Linked DNA regions of Homo sapiens. The protein of the gene in region 1 interacts with the protein of each later gene in a pairwise test. Each region holds a gene or a part of one and is shown on either strand. Other genes may lie near its edges.

What was found.
Region 2: the proteins of SMCO4 (region 1) and KCNK5 interact in binary tests that used the Homo sapiens proteins (3 or more experiments, as listed by UniProt).
Region 3: the proteins of SMCO4 (region 1) and FAM174A interact in binary tests that used the Homo sapiens proteins (3 or more experiments, as listed by UniProt).
Region 4: the proteins of SMCO4 (region 1) and SUSD3 interact in binary tests that used the Homo sapiens proteins (3 or more experiments, as listed by UniProt).

What each region holds. Positions count from the first base shown.
Region 1 is NC_000011.10:93,480,693-93,485,278, reverse strand, and holds part of SMCO4 (single-pass membrane and coiled-coil domain-containing protein 4), read left to right. Parts: intron 1-4,586.
Region 2 is NC_000006.12:39,190,866-39,195,741, reverse strand, and holds part of KCNK5 (potassium channel subfamily K member 5), read left to right. Parts: intron 1-981; coding exon 982-1,148; intron 1,149-1,404; coding exon 1,405-1,573; intron 1,574-3,986; coding exon 3,987-4,852; 3' UTR 4,853-4,876. UniProt on the Homo sapiens protein: K(+) channel that conducts voltage-dependent outward rectifying currents upon membrane depolarization. Voltage sensing is coupled to K(+) electrochemical gradient in an 'ion flux gating' mode where outward but not inward ion flow opens the gate.
Region 3 is NC_000005.10:100,541,108-100,545,983, forward strand, and holds part of FAM174A (membrane protein FAM174A precursor), read left to right. Parts: intron 1-4,876.
Region 4 is NC_000009.12:93,074,935-93,079,810, reverse strand, and holds part of SUSD3 (sushi domain-containing protein 3), read right to left. Parts: intron 4,376-4,876; exon of another isoform or gene 4,329-4,375; coding exon of another isoform or gene 4,307-4,328; intron 4,028-4,306; coding exon 3,839-4,027; intron 1,966-3,838; coding exon 1,818-1,965; intron 341-1,817; coding exon 209-340; intron 1-208. UniProt on the Homo sapiens protein: May play a role in breast tumorigenesis by promoting estrogen-dependent cell proliferation, cell-cell interactions and migration.

The DNA of each region.
Region 1 (4,586 bases):
GGGAGTTCTCAGCCTTGTGGGCTGAGCCTATGATGTGGAAAGCTTACAGGAGGGCAGTGTGAGCCCCTGACTGCATGGGGCAAGCTGTCCGGTAAAAGTATAATGCCAGCTACTCATGGAATTTAAAACTTTTCTAGTAGCCACATTAAAACAGAAAAGAAAACAGGTGAAATCGATTTTAATAATAGATTTTATTTAACCCAGTATATTCAAAACATTATTTCAACATATAATCAGCATAAATAACTTTTAATGAGCTATTTGGCATTCTTTCTTTTGGTACTAAGCCTTCAAAATCTTGTGTGTATTTTATACCACAGCACAGCTGATTTTGGACCACAGCCATATTGCAGATGTTCAACACATGGCCGGTGGCTGCTGCATTGGCTGCACAGGGTTAGCAGGTCTGGGGTGATGAGAGTTGAAAGTGATCTTCCTTGTCTTAGACCTTCCCCTGAGAGCCTGAACCAGGCTTCTCGCATCAAACCTTTGAACAAACCTGCCCAACAGCTAATTGGTACCTCAGGGAAAAGAGAAAACCTGGGGGATTTTGTCATGCATGGGTTATATGGTGCAAAAAAAAAAAAAAAGAATTCCCTGGTGTTTCCCAGATTCATGTACATCTCCACAGCACAGACCTCGCTGGACAGCAAGTTACTGTGTACCATTTATTGAGCCTCTGGTATGGCCTGTTCATCCACTGCATACTTCAGATAATACATTATTTCTAATTTTTCGATGTCTGCAAAACAGGTTTCTTACCCATTTTACAGAGGAGGAGAGTCGGGACGTGAGAGATTTAGTACCTTGTCCAAGATCGTTTAACCAGATGGGGCAGAGCTAAGGCACAAACCTGACTTCAAACCTGTGTTCCTACCATTCCTTAATAGGATCTAACACTCTGTGTACATTATAATCTCCAAATCGGAGAAAAGTGCATATAAGAAGTTAGCATGTGTGCATACATGCATATCTATATACATAAGTAGGAAAAGACGGGAAAGTTCTAATCACAGAAAAAAAATCACAAACAATTCTGTGCTGAAGAATGCGTCCCTGCTTTCCTCCTCTCTGCCTCTGGTCTCCTGCCCACACATACTGGGGACCATTTGGAGTGTCCCCATGCTGACCGGTTGCCGTGGGTGTGTGCTGGTGGGGGGTAGGAGCATAGCAGGTGGAGTTTCATTAGAATTAGTAGAACTCAGGCATTTGTGAAGTTTCCGTTTCCCTGGTTAGGGAAGCTAGAGGCCGTGGGGCACTGGCATTTGAGAAGCTGGAGGCTGCAGCTTCCATCCTGCCTGAGCTGCTTGCTGGGCAGAAGCCAGGCTGAGCGTGTGAGCTTCATTTATTTCTCTCTGCAAGGGGCTGCTGAACCATGATGGGGGCACAAAGTGGGCGAAGGGCGGGAAGATAAGTGGGGTACACCCAGGAAGGTGGGGACTGTCCAGGCTTCAGAGTCACAGATGTGGGTTTGACCTTTGACTCTGCCAGTCCTTTCTTTTGTGTCAGTGGCAGGGCCTTGGATTCTTCCTTGTGAAACTGGAGCAGTCATTTTAGGCAGAGCTCTTTCCAGTGTAAGGGACAGAGACCCCTTGGAGCCAGCCAAAGTTGAAAGAGGCGTTCATCACATACAGAGACACGTCGGAGTACCCTGAGGACAGGAACCTGTGTAGAGCTGGCCTCACAGGGGACTCGACTAGAAGGAGGAGAGTGTGGAGGCTTCTCTTGTGGCCTCTCTGGAGTGCTCCCTCCACCCCCAGGCCTCTCTCCCACCTGGCTTCCCTGGTGACTACAACTGTGTGATTGTCCAACTTCAGTGTCCATTCATGTCTCTTAGATTCTTGAAGTAGAGGCCAGTTGGCCCAGCTTCTCCTTTAGGCAAGCCCACATTTCAGAGGTCCTAGCAGATGTGCTTGAGCCAGCCCTGGCCCAGGAGGCCGCCCGGTGCAGCCCCTGGGCCCAGAGCCATGGTGAGGCGATCCTTAGCCCAGAGGGAGGCGGGCATGGACAGTGCTCTGTGGTGGCCTTTCCACCCTCCAAAAGTGATTGCTTCTTGATTTCTCTTTCCCTGAGTCTGCCTCCCAACTTCCCAGACTTTAAGCTGAAACCTTCTCCTATTTCATTGAAAAAAACAGAAGCCTTTAGTCCCCCAACCCTCACAGTACGGAGCCACCCCTCGCCCCCAGTGCCATCTTCCTACCTCCTCTTGTTGAGTTCAAAGGGTCCTTTGCCTCTCGAAGGCAGGTCTGTCCATTCAGCTTCTTGTCTTGCTCCTACAGAGACCTCTTCTTTTTTCAGTGTCAGGGTTTTCTCCCATTCTATTAGACCCCTCAAACATCATTCTCTAGTTTCGCTTATTATTTAAAGAAAAAGAAAGAAAAACCATTTTGGCCACACACATTCTTCCCACAAAACTTCAAAGCAGTTTTCTGCCCTGGTGCTGTTTGGCGTGCTGGCATGCAGACCCGTCATCACAAGCTACCGGAAGACAGAGGGGCTTGCAGCAGAGTGTCAGCCAGCTCTGCACTGAGCACGTGCCACTGACAGTTTTTCCCTGGCCAAATATTCCCGAGGAAGGAAGCAGTGCGTTCGCTTATGTTCTGGCACAAATGCCTCTGTCTTCTCACAGTTGACCTTCTTGACTGTCTTGGTCCCCACGACAGCACGTTCTCTTTTGCCTCACTCCTTTTCTCTGAGTACCCCATGCTTGCTCTTCCCCTTCCTGCCCTGTAGCTGTCAGGGTGAAAGGACTCAGTCCTGGGCCCTTTCTCTGCCTGCCTTGGACATGATCTCTCTTAATCCAATAGTTGATGACTTCCAAATACAGATCTTCAGCCCAGACCCAGCTCCTGACTCATTTATCCAATTGCCTCCTTGATATTATTTCCATGACGATGTCTAAGAAGCATCCTCACATGCAGAGCACTCAATGCGCTTCTTGAGTCCGCCCTTCCCCAGTGCCCATGCCCTCCCTGGCTCAGGCCACTCTGCCCTCTGCCTGGTGCTCTTCCCAGCTTTTTTCCTGGTTGGTCCCTTTTCACCATAGGGTCCCCTCCCCAGTCGTTATCTCAGAGATGCTTTCCCTTGCTGCCCCAGCTCACAGGTGAGTGAGAGCAGAGACGCTGCTCCTCCTGAAGCCTGATGAAGTACCCAGGATTCAGACGGGCATGTTTGCCCTTTAAATCCTGACCAGACCGGCCCTGGCCCCAGCAGCTTGAGGCTTTTTTCCATGCCTCCAGGAACTTCTGAATGCATCTTACAAATGTTGAGAACTGGTCATTGTGGAGGCTGGGGCCTTTGAATGTCAACTACACTTGTGTGGGTGGATGCAGACAGCAGCATGAAGTGCAGGAGGGAAGTCAGGCCCAGCACTGCTAGCCAGCCAGCCAGGGCATGGCTAGCCCCAGGCCTGGGGTGCCACCTGCCAGTCCTGTGAGGAATTTGGGAGAGACAGCAGCGGGCTCCGACAGGCCATTAGCTCCACAAGGAAATGGCCACGAATCAGAGTGCTGCTAATGGCTTGTTTCTTTTTAAACAATTTTTTTGAGGCCGTGTCGGAGAGAATAGGCTGCCATTTGCAGCTTTGAACAGGAATGCTGTCCATTGCTCTGTTAGAAGCCATGGGGTATTTACAAACTGGGTGACTGTTGGCAAGACATTTTTCCCCTTTGCTCCTTGGTTTCCTCCCTTCCGTGATGGGGATAATAAAGCCTGTCTGTCTGACTCACAGGGCCGTTGGGGTGTGTTCCAGGTGTTGGTATGTCAGCTAGCACGAATTCGCCGCCCGCTCTGTGCCAAGCCCTGAGTTATACAGCTTCCTACTCCATCCTCACCACGGTCCCGCGAAGGTGGGCATCACTCAAGGCTGCAGTCAGGCTTAGAGGAGCTCAGTGCACCCGTCCCTGGGCCGCCCACGGGTATGGGTGGAGATGTCTCAGCCCACCTGTACCGCGTCCCTGCGGGCGGGCAGAGCTCTGGGTACAGATGCATTTGTTTTCCAGATTCTCACAGTCATCCTTTAAGACAAGCTGTTCTCATTGTTCAGATGATGGCATGGAGGCCTAGTGGAGTTAAGTGACTTGCTCAAAGCCATTTAGCCTGTAAGTGATTGGTCCTGGATTTGAAGGCAAGTCTGCCTGGAAGTCCTTTGGAAGACTTGAAAAGGAGAATTGGTAAAGCCAGGGGTTCCTATACCTTTCAGGCCTTAAGAAAGTAATAGTAGGTGTTTTTTTTTTTCTCTCTGTTCCTTATTTCATGAAGGAAATTATACATTTGCCCAAATGGCGCTTCCCTTAATATTTGCTGAACCTTAATGTTTGCTTTTGATTGGCATTATGCCATCCTAGCACAATAATATTTGTCATCTCATACCTTAGGAAACTCTGCCTGATTTTGAATGATACAAAAAAGGTTTTGGGGTCTAAATGGAGTGAGAGGAATGGTAAGAGATTAAGTATCCCTCATAAAAACAGGATGGTGTCAGTAAGACCTTTCCCAACTCTGAGTTCACATTCTACCACCTCGGTCACTTAGGTGTAAATGTCATCTTCCTCCTCAAGATGATGACAGGCCACCCACTACCCTGG
Region 2 (4,876 bases), on another chromosome or scaffold:
TTCTTAGGGATTTGTTAAGTCCTTGGTAGCTGATCATGCCTGGGAAGGTTTCCTTGAGTCTTGACCTGGGCTCTTTGAGCAGAAACAATGACACAGCCTCATGGCCAGAGCCATGCAAGAGATTAACCAGACTGCTCATTGCAGAAACCCAGATCATGACTACTTACCAAGCTGGGTGTCTGTTTCAGTTCTCAGGCTGCATAGCCAACCAGTCCAGAAGTTTGGCTCAGAACGCAGCTTCTTCTCTTTCACCATTCTGTCAGCTTGACTGGGCTCAGCTGGCTGGTTCTTGCTTGGGCTCCCAATGCAGTGGCAGTCGAACAATGGCTGGGCTGGAGTCTTCTGAAAGCCAAACTCATCTGATGGCCCAGATGGCTCCTCCCATCACAGATTTGACAGTTGATGCTGGCTGTTGGCTGGGAGCTCAGCTGGGGATGAAAACACAAGGCCTCCGCATGTGTTTGGGAACCAAGGCGAAAAGCAGCAGGCTTCTTAGACCTCACCTGTCCAGCGTCTCTTCCGCTGCCTAGACTGCTTCTGTTGTCAAGCCACTAAAGCCCAGATTCCAAGGGAAGAGGATTAGATGACACCTTGATGTGAGCAGTTGCATAAGAAGGGAGGGAATGGAGGATGGCTATCTTTGGAGACCATCTACCACAGTGCTTCTGGGGAATCTACACAGAGAGCATGTCTTATAACTTGCACAGTGGTACCATATAGACTAGTGGAAGACCTGTTGACCAGGCTTAGTCCCTGCCTTCAGGGAGCTCCTTGTATGATGGAGGAGATACAGCTCATGTCATCATAATTGCTTTATCAATGATCATGATCAGAGTATGATCAAGGGAAATATCATTACTTAAGTACTGACAATAGATCAATATCAATTTATCTTAGAGAACGGGCTGTGTGTGTGTTGGAAGCAAGGCCCACTGGTTTGACCACCCCTCCTGTTCTTGGCCTCACTCTCTCCTTCCTCAGGATATGGCAATGTGGCTCCCAAGACCCCCGCCGGTCGCCTCTTCTGTGTTTTCTATGGTCTCTTCGGGGTGCCGCTCTGCCTGACGTGGATCAGTGCCCTGGGCAAGTTCTTCGGGGGACGTGCCAAGAGACTAGGGCAGTTCCTTACCAAGAGAGGTGTGAGTCTGGTATGTCCCCTACCCTGGGTGTTGGGCAGAGATGGGGGAACCATGACAGGTGAGGGGAGGACAGGAGGCCTCTAGGAATTGGACCAAGGGTGTAAGGACAGATGGCAAGAGGATAGTTTCAGAGCTCCTTGCCCTCCCGGGTCAGGCTGGGTACCCAGCTAGCTTCTCCTCTAGCTGCCTCCCTGGCCCTCTGGGTGCCTTTGCTGGGTTTCCAAGTCTCCACTATTCTCTGACTTGGCCTCCTGCTCCCCATCAGCGGAAGGCGCAGATCACGTGCACAGTCATCTTCATCGTGTGGGGCGTCCTAGTCCACCTGGTGATCCCACCCTTCGTATTCATGGTGACTGAGGGGTGGAACTACATCGAGGGCCTCTACTACTCCTTCATCACCATCTCCACCATCGGCTTCGGTGACTTTGTGGCCGGTGAGTCCCTGCCTCTGCCTCCCACCTCTTTTTCTGCTTCTTTGGTTTCAGTGCAACAGACCTATGTTGGGGGTGCCCTAGGTAGGGTTCCATGTTCTGGGCACTTCTCTTACCCAGTGGGATTCTCAACCCACTCTGCCATTTGCAAGAGGAAACTAAGACCCAGAGTAATGACAAAAAACTCTTTTCTCTCTGGTTCCCTTTCTCAGACATGGCCTTTTTCCTCCTCCTTTCCTCTCTGCTCAGTCTCTGATCTCCTCTCCCTCAGTTCTCCCATGACTCCTGAGCTTGGCTTCATGGGGGACTTGCAAGTAGGGCCTTCTGCCTGCACGGTTGGTACCTGCTACCCAGGGAGCCCCTGAGCCCACCAGCACCCACTCCACGCCCTCAGCAGCCTTTCATCTTTCACAAGAGTGGAGGGAGGTGTCCTGAAGGCATGGCTCAGAGGCCTGGGGCTTTGTTCCTGCTGTAGCAGCTTAAAGACAAGGGAGGCCTTCTCCCCAGCTGCCCTGCCCCCAGCCCTGACACTCCCTCCTACTCCTCCCCTGCTTAATCCAGGGAAGTGATGAGGTTCTTTGGCCCCTTTGTCTGAAGGCCTGTTACCAGCTGGCCCCAGCCACACATGTACTTGTGTTTGTGGCCTGCACAGCATCTTGGTTCTTAATCTTCTTGACACCCTGTTTGACCCTGTTGACCCACCACCCCAGTGACCTCAACTTCTGCTCCAGAGGCCTCTGTTCTGTACCCCCTCCCTTTTGCCCAGAGGGCAGTGGGAGGCCACTAGCCTTGTGCTTGATGTATGTGGCATCTGGGAGCAGTTGGCTGAGTTGGGGGAGGAACAGGAAAGAGAGGCACAAACACTCCCCTGACCCTGCCAAGTCCGGGCCTGCTGTCCTGGGCAGTACATGTGGACAAGGCACAACCCTGCCATTGTCCAGCCCTTGAGGCCCAGAGCAGGCTAAGGAGGTGCCTCTGGTATTAGGGAAATACAGATGTACACTTAGCCATACTTTCTCAGCACCAGCAAGACACCAAACCCTGCCTCAGCTTTCTCTTCTGTAAAATTAGTAAAAATAATAATTACTATTCATGAGTGTTAAGGGTAGGGCCTGGCTATATCAGTGTGTGCCCTCATTACTGTCATCATGAAACTCTGCTTGTGATTGAGAGCCTTGAGCAGGATTAACAGGACCACTCAGGGCACCTGCTATCTGAGCCCGGTCGTGGGAGGAGAACTGACCGGGCTACAGCACCTGGAGGAACCTCTAGTCTGATGAGAGAGGTAGCCCCCTTCCTCCAGGTCCCTTCTGTAAGTTGCTCTTGTATCTAGTCGAGGGGGCAAATGGAATACAGGTCAACATGCCTGTACATGTAGTCGTCAACGACATTTCAAATAATCCTGGAGTGTAGGGGGAACCTTCAGAGCTGTAGGGGGTAAGCCAAGAAGGCTCCCTGCAGCAGGAGGGGGATGTGGAGCAGACAGAGCCCTCCTCCAGGTCAAGGGAGAGCTGATCTGAGGAAGTCAGGGAGGCAGACCAGACCTTCAATGAAAATAAAAATGGTTCAGCGTTTCTTGCCACGGTGGGTGCTTCCTGGGTCATCTCAACCTAACCACCAGCCTTGTTTGTAATCCACCAGTGTGAGTCTAGCCCCAGCTTGGAGGGTGCTGGGGGCTCCCTTGTGTAATATCCATCCATTCCGTTTTTAAGTGAACTGTATCATATACGCAGAACAGCTGGGGATGGTAGAAGAATTAACAGAAAGGCAAATACTCATGAACTGTTTCTTGACCTGTGTGTCGGTTACATTGCCAGTCCCCCAAAGCCCCTTTAGCTTCCTTCAAAGAGTCACTGTCTTGACTTTTTTTTTTTTTTTTTTTTTTTTTGAGACGGAGTCTCTGTCTGCTGCCCAGGCTAGAGTGGCAGTGGTGTGATCTTGGCTCACTGCAACCTCTGCCTCCCGGGTTCAAGCAGTTCTCCTGCTTCAGCCTCCTGAGTAGCTGGCCCGCCACCATACCTGGCTAATTTTTGTATTGTTAGTGGAGCTGGGGTTTTACCATGTTGGTCAGACTGGTTTCGAACTCCTGACCTCAAGTGATCCACCTGCCTTGACCTCCCAAAGTGCTGGGATTGCAGACGTGAGCCACCATGCCTGGCCTGTCTTGACGTTTCTAGTTGAGGAAACCGAGACTCAGAGACAGGCTGGAGACTGGGATGGGGTCATGAATGATGGCAGGCCCAAGCCCTTGAGGAAGATGGGATAGTCCAGGGTCTAGAACAGGCCCCTTTCTATCCCACTGCACCCCCGTCCTGTGCTCTGGCCTGACCCCTGCTCAGATCACACAGCATTGGCCATTGCACATTTCCCGGGCCCTGCTAACTCTTCCTGACCTCTGGACTGCCTGTCCGCTCAGGTGTGAACCCCAGCGCCAACTACCACGCCCTGTACCGCTACTTCGTGGAGCTCTGGATCTACTTGGGGCTGGCCTGGCTGTCCCTTTTTGTCAACTGGAAGGTGAGCATGTTTGTGGAAGTCCACAAAGCCATTAAGAAGCGGCGGCGGCGACGGAAGGAGTCCTTTGAGAGCTCCCCACACTCCCGGAAGGCCCTGCAGGTGAAGGGGAGCACAGCCTCCAAGGACGTCAACATCTTCAGCTTTCTTTCCAAGAAGGAAGAGACCTACAACGACCTCATCAAGCAGATCGGGAAGAAGGCCATGAAGACAAGCGGGGGTGGGGAGACGGGCCCGGGCCCAGGGCTGGGGCCTCAAGGCGGTGGGCTCCCAGCACTGCCCCCTTCCCTGGTGCCCCTGGTAGTCTACTCCAAGAACCGGGTGCCCACCTTGGAAGAGGTGTCACAGACACTGAGGAGCAAAGGCCACGTATCAAGGTCCCCAGATGAGGAGGCTGTGGCACGGGCCCCTGAAGACAGCTCCCCTGCCCCCGAGGTGTTCATGAACCAGCTGGACCGCATCAGCGAGGAATGCGAGCCATGGGACGCCCAGGACTACCACCCACTCATCTTCCAGGACGCCAGCATCACCTTCGTGAACACGGAGGCTGGCCTCTCAGACGAGGAGACCTCCAAGTCCTCGCTAGAGGACAACTTGGCAGGGGAGGAGAGCCCCCAGCAGGGGGCTGAAGCCAAGGCGCCCCTGAACATGGGCGAGTTCCCCTCCTCCTCCGAGTCCACCTTCACCAGCACTGAGTCTGAGCTCTCTGTGCCTTACGAACAGCTGATGAATGAGTACAACAAGGCTAACAGCCCCAAGGGCACATGAGGCAGGGCCGGCTCCCCACCCCAC
Region 3 (4,876 bases), on another chromosome or scaffold:
CAAATCTGTTTCTGATAAATTTGAATGACTGTTATATCTCTCAAACTTCTGAATATTAGGGCTTCAAAGATAATAAAGACATCATATTTGTGTTCAAGGAGCTTATCTAGTGAAGGAGTACCACTGCTTTTTGTGGTAATAAACTAAACTTTTGGGAATGTGGCAGCAAGAGCTGAAGCTATTTGGAGAAGGCTGCTCTTAAATATCATTCCTGTTAGACAAAGCCATCTGAAAAGCCACTTCATAACATAACAAAAACTATTATATTTTTGTAGAAGACTAAATATTTATCTCTAATCAGCATAAATCTTTTACAAACTTGCCCTGTAACTGAATCTATTTTCAGTTGACCTTTTCTGCTTGGATATATTTCATTTCACTCTTAACTGTGCAGGCAGGGAGAAGTATTGGATGAGAGCTGTAGAAAGGGGTCCATTTAAGAATGAACTATCCAGTCTTGTTTAAATGCCATTAGTGGGGAAAGAGCAAGTACAGAAGGAAATATTGAAGATATGGGAAAGGAAGATACCTAAGAAGACATTAAGGAGGGAATCTAAATAAAGCTCTTGTCATAGGACAGGAGAGAGATTTTCCATTGAAATGTTCCCATTTCCATGCCTTTCATTCTCTCTTATGCTTTTTGTAGTCTGGCTTCTAATTCTACCACTCTAGAATTACTCATGCAGAAGATGGTTAATAAGCACATTGTCTCAGTTTCATGGATATTTTCCCCTTTTCTGTAGCACTCAGTGCACTGGTTCTTACTTTGACTTCTGAGACATCTCTTCTGATTTTCTTCTTACCTCCTTGAGTATTTCTTGCCTAGCTTCTTCATGAATTTCTTATTCCATGAACTCTTCTTCCTAATTAGGACTCTTCTACAAGCTAATGTCTGGAGAGCAGGGCCTCTGTCTTACTCATCTTTGGTCCCTAAAGGCCCAATCTGATTCCTAGAATACAACGAGATGCATTGAATTTTTGTGGAAGAGAATGACTTTCACCTCCCAACTGACAGTGTTTTCTGGGCCCTGCTTTCACTGTCCATGTTCCCTGGGTGATCCATCCAAAATTCATTTCCTTAATGGCCACCTCTAAGCTGTTAATTACTTTCTGAGTTACAGACATGTATAGCCAGCCAACTTCTTACGGGATAGATGATTCAGACTTGTTTTCAAGTTTAAGCTTGAAACAGTATTTTTATCCCTGGACAAATCTTGCTGTACTCTCTTTATAAGGAGAATAACACCATCATCTACACAGTTTCTCAAACTAGAAACCTAAGTCATCCCATGTCTCTCTTTTGCTTACCATTCACATACAGTCATCCAATTTCAATTGCTAAATATTTCTTGACTATATTGCTGCTTTATGAGCTCAATTGACCTTACATTAGTTTAGGTTCACATCACTAGATTATTGTGCTATTGTTTCTAACTTTTCTCCACTTCACCTGTCTCTCTTTCAATTTACCTTCAACACTGAACAGATGGTGTTCCCTCTGAGATGTAAATCTATCATACTATGTGTGTGCTTATAATCCTTTATTGCTACACTGTCCAATATGGTAGCCAGTAGGTACAGGTGGCTATTTAAAAACTTATGTTACCTGGGCACAGTGGCTTACGTTTGTAATCCCAGCACTTTGGGAGGCCAAGGTGGGAGGATCTCTTGAGTCCAGGAGTTTGAGACCAGCTTGGGCAATATAGTGAGATCCTGCTTATTATATTTATATATATATATGTGTGTGTGTGTGTGTGTATAATATTCACACACATGTGTAGGGGGTATATGTGTGTGTGTATATATATGTGTGTGTGTAATATATATGTATATACACATACTGGGTATAGCAGTGCAGGCCTGTAAGTTCCAGCTGTTTGGGAGGCTGAAGTGGGAGGATCACTCAAACCTAGGATATTAAGACTGCAGTGTGTGATGATCACACTACTGCACTCCACCTTTCATGACAGAGCAAGACCTTGTCTCAAACAAAGTTAATGAAAAATAAAATGTAAAATTCCAGTCCATTAGATATACTAGCTGCATTTCTTTTATTTATTTAGAGACAAGGTCTGGCTCAGCTCACTGCAACCTCTGCCTCCCGGGCTCAAGCCATCCTCCCACCTCAGCCTCCCAAGTAGGTGGGACTACAGGCGCACGCCACCACACCCAGCTATTTATTGTATTTTTTATAGAAATTTGGTTTTGCCATGTTGCCTAAGCTGGTCTCGAACTCTTGAGCTCAAGTGATCTGCCTGCCTTGGCCTCCTAAAGTGCTGGGATTACAGGTGTGAGCCACTTCACCCGCCAACTAGCCACATTTTGAGGGCTAAATAATCACATGTTGTTAGTGGCAACTGTATTGGACAGAACAATGCAGAATATGTCCATCACTGCAGAAAGTTCTATTGGGTAGCACAATTCTATGGCATTTCATGGGATCAATGTTCATACTCTTTAGTATTTAATTAGCTCCTTAATCAGATTTTTTGGTGTTTTTGACATGGAGTCTCCCTCTGTCACCCAGGCTGGAGGGGAGTGGCACAGTCTTAGCTCACTGCAACCTCCACCTCATGGATTCAGACGATTCTCCTGCCTCAGCCTCCCCGAGTGGCTGGGACTACCGGCCATCATTTTTTATTTTATCTTGTCTTCCAGTCTCTAGTGAACTATATTTTTATGCAAGTACATTTTTCAAGGATGGAATTCTTTGCATTCTTTCTTTATTCTCTTGTTTAACTCCTGGTTGTCTTTGAAGATGAAATGGAACATGTACTCTACTGGGAAATCTCTGTGATTCCAGACCATTTTGAGAATACCTGTGTTATGACATTATTTCCAGGGGACTATAATAGGTGGTTCTGTTTCTGTCTTCTTTTCTACACTGTTTGCTTTTTATACCTTATTTAGAAAATAGTAGATTTTCACGTTTTCTGAATTAATATCAAAAGGAAATAAGAAATAATGTATCAGGCTGGGCATGGTGGCTTATGCCTGTAATCCCAGCATTTTGGGATTCTGAGGCAGGCAAACTGCTTGAATCCAGGGGTTGAGACCAGCCTGGGCAATATAGTGAGACTTCATCCCTACTAAAATGAAAAAAAGAAAAAATTAGCTAGTTGTGGTGACCTGTGGCCCCAGCTACTCAAGAAACTGAAGTGAATCACTGGAGTCCAGGAAGTCAAGGTCGTACCCCTGCATTTGTACCCCTGCATCCCGGAAACAGTTGAGGCCAAGGTCATACCCCTGCATTTGTACCCCTGCATTTGTACTCCTGCATCCTCAAACAGATGAGATCCTGGAGAGAGAGAGAGAGAGAGAGAGAGATCGAGAGACAGAGAGAGAAGGAGAGGAGAGAGAGGGGGAAAAGAGGAGAAAGAAAGATAAAGGAAAAGAATAAAAAAGAAATAATGTATGTGAAATCAAAACATGTAAATGAAGATTAAAAATGTGAGGTAGCTGTGTGAGAGTGGTGTTAACATCAATCCTGCAATAATGTAGTCATTTTAACTCATTTCAATTCCATACTGGAGCCTCATGATATATGCTTGTGCAGAGAAGTCAGTTTTTTTAACAGGTGTATATTTGCATGTATTTACCCAAGATAATGTGCAGATTATTCACCAGTGTATATCTAACATGACTGCAGTCCTCAGGGTATTAGAGTACAACCAGAAAATGCATTCCTCTGTAATTGATAGAGGTTGAATGTGGGACAAAATGGAGAAACTAGATTGAGATGCTTCTGGTTAGTTATTGCAAAGTTTTTCTGAAAACAAAATCAATAGCATTTGAACATTACTATCAACTGGTAGCAATGCTCAGGTGGTATCTACCAATACACTCTACCAGTGTTTCTGGACCCATTGCTACAGCAAGCGTCTATTCTGACTAGATGGTCCTTATGCCCTGCCAGTTGTTAAATAGCTAAATATCTTGAGTATCACCTCTACTCCTACACTTCAAAGTTCCTGAGTTCTTTTGTCATGATCTCCAGTGCCCATTGTAGTATTTCTCTTCTATATTATTGCATTTGATTCTAATTTTATCTTTGGTGAAGACTACATTTAAAAAATTACTTAGGTTTGATCTTTTCTAAAATATGAGAAATATGGTAAAATGTTGAAATTGGGTTGAAAGATATGTTGGTAATTTGCATTGTTCAGTATGATATAAAACATATCTAGAGAAATACTTAAATCATAAATTGAGAATCTTATAGTAATTGAAGTTACTTTCTTAAGAAATCAGGTTTTCCTTGGCGTTTTTGGATAGATTTTTATTGCTATATTCTTTAATAATCCTTTTTTTTTCTGGAAGAAGAAAGTGGTATAGAGTTGAAAATTCATAGAACATGAAGATATTGACTGTTGTGAGATTTTGGTTGGCATGTAATGTCAATTCTTTCTGTGTAGCCAAACTGTATTATGTTTTTGTAATGTAAAAGGGGTAATATATACTATGGTTTGACTTTAGTTATACTGTAATTTTATGTATTCACCAGTTATCTCAATAGTAAAGCAAAACATCCAAAAGATAAAACTGTCTCTATGTTTCTATGCTAATTAATTTACATACATATGAGTATATGTGTAATTTTCCATGCATGCCTTTATTCCTCTAGTTAATATGATAGTTTTAGTTTTAACTTTCTTTTATTACTGAAATCTATAGAACATAAATTCACATTATTAATATATGTTACATGTTAATAAAACACATGACATAATTATAACCTTGTGTTATCACTTATAATTGTTTAAAGGAACTATTATTTTTCCTGTCATTATGTATACTGTAGACACCTTAAATTTATATAGATGTATACAAAAAACCTTATAAAATTATTTGATAAGTGTTATTTCAGCCTCAACTC
Region 4 (4,876 bases), on another chromosome or scaffold:
CAGTTCTGAGTCCTAGAATGTCAGAGTCAGGACAGAGTGCTACAAGGACCACCAGCCTCTTGTTTTAGAGATGGGAGTTAAGGTTCTGGGTGGGCTAGGCGTGTGGGAGCAGCAGGCTCTCAGCGTGTGGGAGCAGCAGGTGGCCCGGGGCCTGACCAAGCTGGACCCCTTGTCCCCCAGCATGTCCCCTACCCAGACCCGGGCTCACGTGGTGAAGCTGTGGTTGTCGTGCGCCTGGCTGGGCCCGCTCACGGGTTTGTTGAAGTGCTTGAGGCCAAGGTATGCGGCCTGCACCGTCTCCAAGTCCTCATCTTTCAGCTGGGACCACAGCTGGGCTGACCTGGAGGAGAGTTTGGGAGGAAGGACTCTGAGCATGCAGGTGTATCCCTGACGGTGGTGGAAACAGGCTCCATGTAGGCCCAGGGCACCGTCTGCAGGACCAGTGCAGGCTGGCAAACCTCTCAAAGAGCTGGGCAGTGGATGTTTTTGGTGTGGTGAGACACATGATTTCTCCCACAGCTAAACTCTGCAATTGCAGCCCAAAAGTAGCCACACACCAGTAGACAATGAACATGGCTGTGTTCCAATAAAACTTTACTTACAAATACAGGTGGTGGAAAGTTCTAGGGCTGGACAGTGCTAATGGCTGCACTACATCGTGAACATACTTAATGCTACTGAACTGTAGACGTTAAAAAGGTTAAGTTTTGGCCAGGCGCAGTGGCTCATGCCTGTAATCCCAGCACTTTGGGAGGCCGTGGCAGGTGGATCATGAGGTCAGGAGCTCGAGACCATCCTGGCTAACACGGTGAAACCCCGTCTGTACTAAAAATACAAAAAAAAATTAGCTGAGCATGGTGGCGGGCGCTTGTAGTCCCAGCTACTCGGGAGGCTGAGGCAGGAGAATGGCGTGATCCCAGGAGGTGGAGCTTGCAGTGAGCTGAGATGGAGCCACTGCACTCCAGCCTGGGCGACAGAGTGAGACTCCGTCTCAAAAAAAAAAAGGTTAAGTTTTATGTATTGATATTTTACCACAATAAAAAATAAAAACAAAAAATAATAATAAATTACCATGGGGAAAAAACCTGACAGACAGCCGGACTTCGCTGGTGGGCTGTGGTTAACCAGCCCTCCATCTGCAGTGACAGTGACTCCCTCTCAAGGTTTAGGGGGCGTGTGTGGCAGCCCTGCAGGCCGTTAACACAGCAGAGTACATACTGCATATGTGTGCAGGTTTAAGAATAAAACGGGCCGGGCGCGGTGGCTCACGCCTGTAATCCCAGCACTTTGGGAGGCAGATCACTGGGCGGATCACCAGAGGTCAGGAGTTTGAGACCAGCCTGGCCAATATGGTGAAACCCCATCTCCACTAAAAATACAAAAAATTAGCCGAGTGTGGTGGTACATACCTATAATCCCAGCTTCTAGGAAGGCTGAGGCAGGAGAATTGCTTTAACCCAGGAGGCGGAGGTTGCAGTGAGCTGAGATCACGCTACTGTACTCTGTCGCCTGGGTGACAGAGCAAGACTCCGTCTCAAAAAAAATAAATAAATAAAATAATCCCCCGTGAACCCATAGCCTGGCCTAAGAGCAGGGCCTTGGGGGCCCACATGTCCCCCAGCTGTGATGCTGCCCCTGGCTGCTGCGTGGGCCGGGAGCAGCACTTGGGGGGGAGACGCAGGCCCAGAGCAGCAGTGGTAGGAACGGGTGCCCTGAGGGCAGTGCCGGGGTTCCCTTGAAACACTCTGTCCTTTCCTCCTCCCATGGTGCCAAGAGGCGCCTCCCGGGAGGACCCTGAGATCATGAGGCCACCGTACCTGTTGGAGCGCCGCCGCTTGCTCTTCTTCACGCACTTGAGGAGGCAGCAGGTGAGGAAGGCCATGGACATGAGCAGGATGATGGCACAGCTCACAATGGAGGCGATCACGGCCACCTTGAAGCCAAAGGTCTCGTGTGGTGGCACCACTGTGTGGGAGACAACCACCAGCTCCTGGGCGAGGTTTGCCCAGATTTGCTTGGCCCAGGGGTTGGGGGTCTCAGGGGTGGTACGGGTAGGGCCTGGGTGTAGACAGGGCCTGGGCAGCCCTCAGTGAGCCCTGTTTGCATGGTAAGGGGGCAGTGAGGTGCTGGGGGCTGAGGCAAAGATCTGTGCAAACTATATTTGGAGGTGGGACTATCAGAGAAGACTCTCCCCAAGAAGCAGGTTATTTGAGCAGGGTGTGTAGGAGTATGCAGAGTGGCTATTTAAAGGGGGTATTTAAGCAGGGTTTTCCAGGGTGTGTAGGAGTGTGCAGAGTGGCTAACTGAAGAGGGTATTTGAGCAGGGTTTTGTAGGGTATGTAGAAGTCTGCAGAGTGGTCAATTACAGAAGTTCTGGCAGGGAGTTCAGAGTGATGGCCTCCTTGGCTCCTACCCACTGAAGTCCTGCCTGAGGAATGAAGGAAGGGTGGGCCACAGAGAGGAGGTGACAATAGACAGTACTGAGGAGGCCTTGCCCAGCCCATGGTCTGGGTTTTCACAATGCCCCAAGGTGGCAACATTCTTCAGGGGGCCTACATGCCTTCTCAGGTCACTTTCCAGGAAGGTCCAAAATACTATGTATCTGCTGTGTGACCTCAGCTATGCTCCAAAAACTAGTTCCATCAGATTCTACTGGATGTTCTGGCTAAAAAAGGCCTCGGAATCCTAATTTGAGCAACACCGTTTACTCCCCCACGTAGAGAACATGGCCCTGTCCCCTGCCCCATTTCCCATGCTCCCTAGTGGATCCTGGCCACCCAAAATGGAGACTACATTTCCCAGTGGTCACAGGACCATGTTCTGGCCAGTGGAAGATAAGAAGTGATGTGGGGCAACTTCTAAGAACCTTCCCTGAGACACTGGGGCCTGCTCTTTGGCCCCAGGGCCCCTCACCCCATAACAGCTGCCTGGAACATAGCTGCTGCCATCTTGAATCATGAGGCTGAGGCCATGCCCAGCAGAGCCATGCCAGGGAAGGGGCCTGGCTCCCACTGCCATGGAGCCTATACAGATCTGCCTGCCCACCCTGAAGGTTGAGCTCCATCATAGTTAATCCTAGTATTTTGGGTTTTCTGCCTTTCAGAATCTAATCCTAACACTCGCATCCTCAGAGAATCACCTAGCACGTGAACATTTTAAAGGCTCTGAGAAGTTCTGCAGCATAAAAACCCAGAATCTGCCAAACTATTTTGACTCTGAGCCCTTTTTATGCACAAAACACATGAACATAACACACATAGCTTCATTTTGGAAATGTCATGCTGGGCACTGAAAAGGGACTATCTTGTGGACCTTTCAACACCTGTACAAGAAATACAACCAGAAAACCATTGCCTCCCACAGACTGGGAGCTCCAGGGCCAGGCACGTTATGACCTTCCGTGTTGCCAGTACTTAAGATTCCTGATACGTGAAATATCCTATTAAAGTTGGCCATGTGCACCTGTACATGAATGAATGAATGAATGAATGAATGAATGAACAAACATAGTTTCCTGCTTAACAGATGAAAACGTGCTGGCTCAGAGAGCATGCACAGCCTCTTGGCGGTGAGGGGCTGAGTCGGTAGCAGAGCCAGGATTGGAGGCCCGCTACTAGGTTTTCGGTCCGTGCTGCCAACATGGCACTGGGAGGGCTGAGGGCCTACAGCCGGCTGCTGACATGTAAGCAAGCTGTCAGTGTTGGGAATGGGACCCTACACACTGGCCTAGCTGCTTGTGAGTAGACACCCACGCCATCCCCACCCACACCATCCCCATGACAGGATTTGGGGCCATCCCCCACCCCCAGAGCCACCGAGCTGAGAGAGGGGTCCTTACGTTTGCACACTGGGGACCCTGAAGACCACTCAGCGATGCTCCCCTTCCAGGTGCAGGTGAGGAGCCCAGACCCCACCATCTGGTGGTTGGAGGGGCAGCGGAACATGAGCACGGTCCCCACGGAAGCACCATTGCCACGAAGGACTTGGAAGGTTGCTTGCGGGGGTAGCCGCAGCTTAGCGCACGTGCCTGGGGAGACAGGCAGGTATGAGGCATGGCGGGGGGGGGGGGGTGGGCACGCAGGGCAGGGCTGGGCAGGACCCTGGAGTGAGGAGCTGGCACAGCATTGGGGAGCACAGGGGTGGGGTGCAGCTCCAAAGGCCATTGGATGCTCTAGAGGTCACATGGGGTCATCCAGACCGGGGGACAACGCAGAGCTGGATCCCTCCATGAAGTACACTCTAGATGTTGAGGATTGGAGCATTAAAAAAAGAAATAAGTGTTAGAAGACAATAAAAGCAAACATACCTTCCCTGAGACACTGAGGCATGGCCTTTGATTATGACCTAAACACGGCTCCAAAGGCAGAAATCAGAACAAAAAAAAAAAAAAAAAAAAAAAGAGGGACAGAGAGAGATCAGCAGATTTGACTGCATACAAAGCAGAAAGCAAAAGCTTCTGAGGCTCCCTAATAATGGAAAACAACCAACTCAGGTGAAAAATTCGGGAAAGGATATTTGGAAAGCATAGGTCAAAGGTTGGTTCGGTAGTCTTAATCTATGAAGAGGTCTTACACATCAATGAAAACTGAATATTCAGTTTAAAAAAAACCAACAAGTTCTAATGTGTGAACAAGCAATTCACAAGGATACCAGTGGCCCACAGTCATGAAAAATGCAGACCCACAGGCAATTGAGGAAATGTTGATTCAAGGGAGAGCTCATTTTTCCTGCGTCGGTGAGGTAAAGGCAAAAAGAAAACAATGTGCAAGTTGGCAGGGCCTGGGAAGCCCTGTACCCGGGCTGGGGTACAGATCCAACCTTTCTGCAGAGCATTTGGTAAATGCAATAAGCACCCTATGTTGCATATGAACCTTTA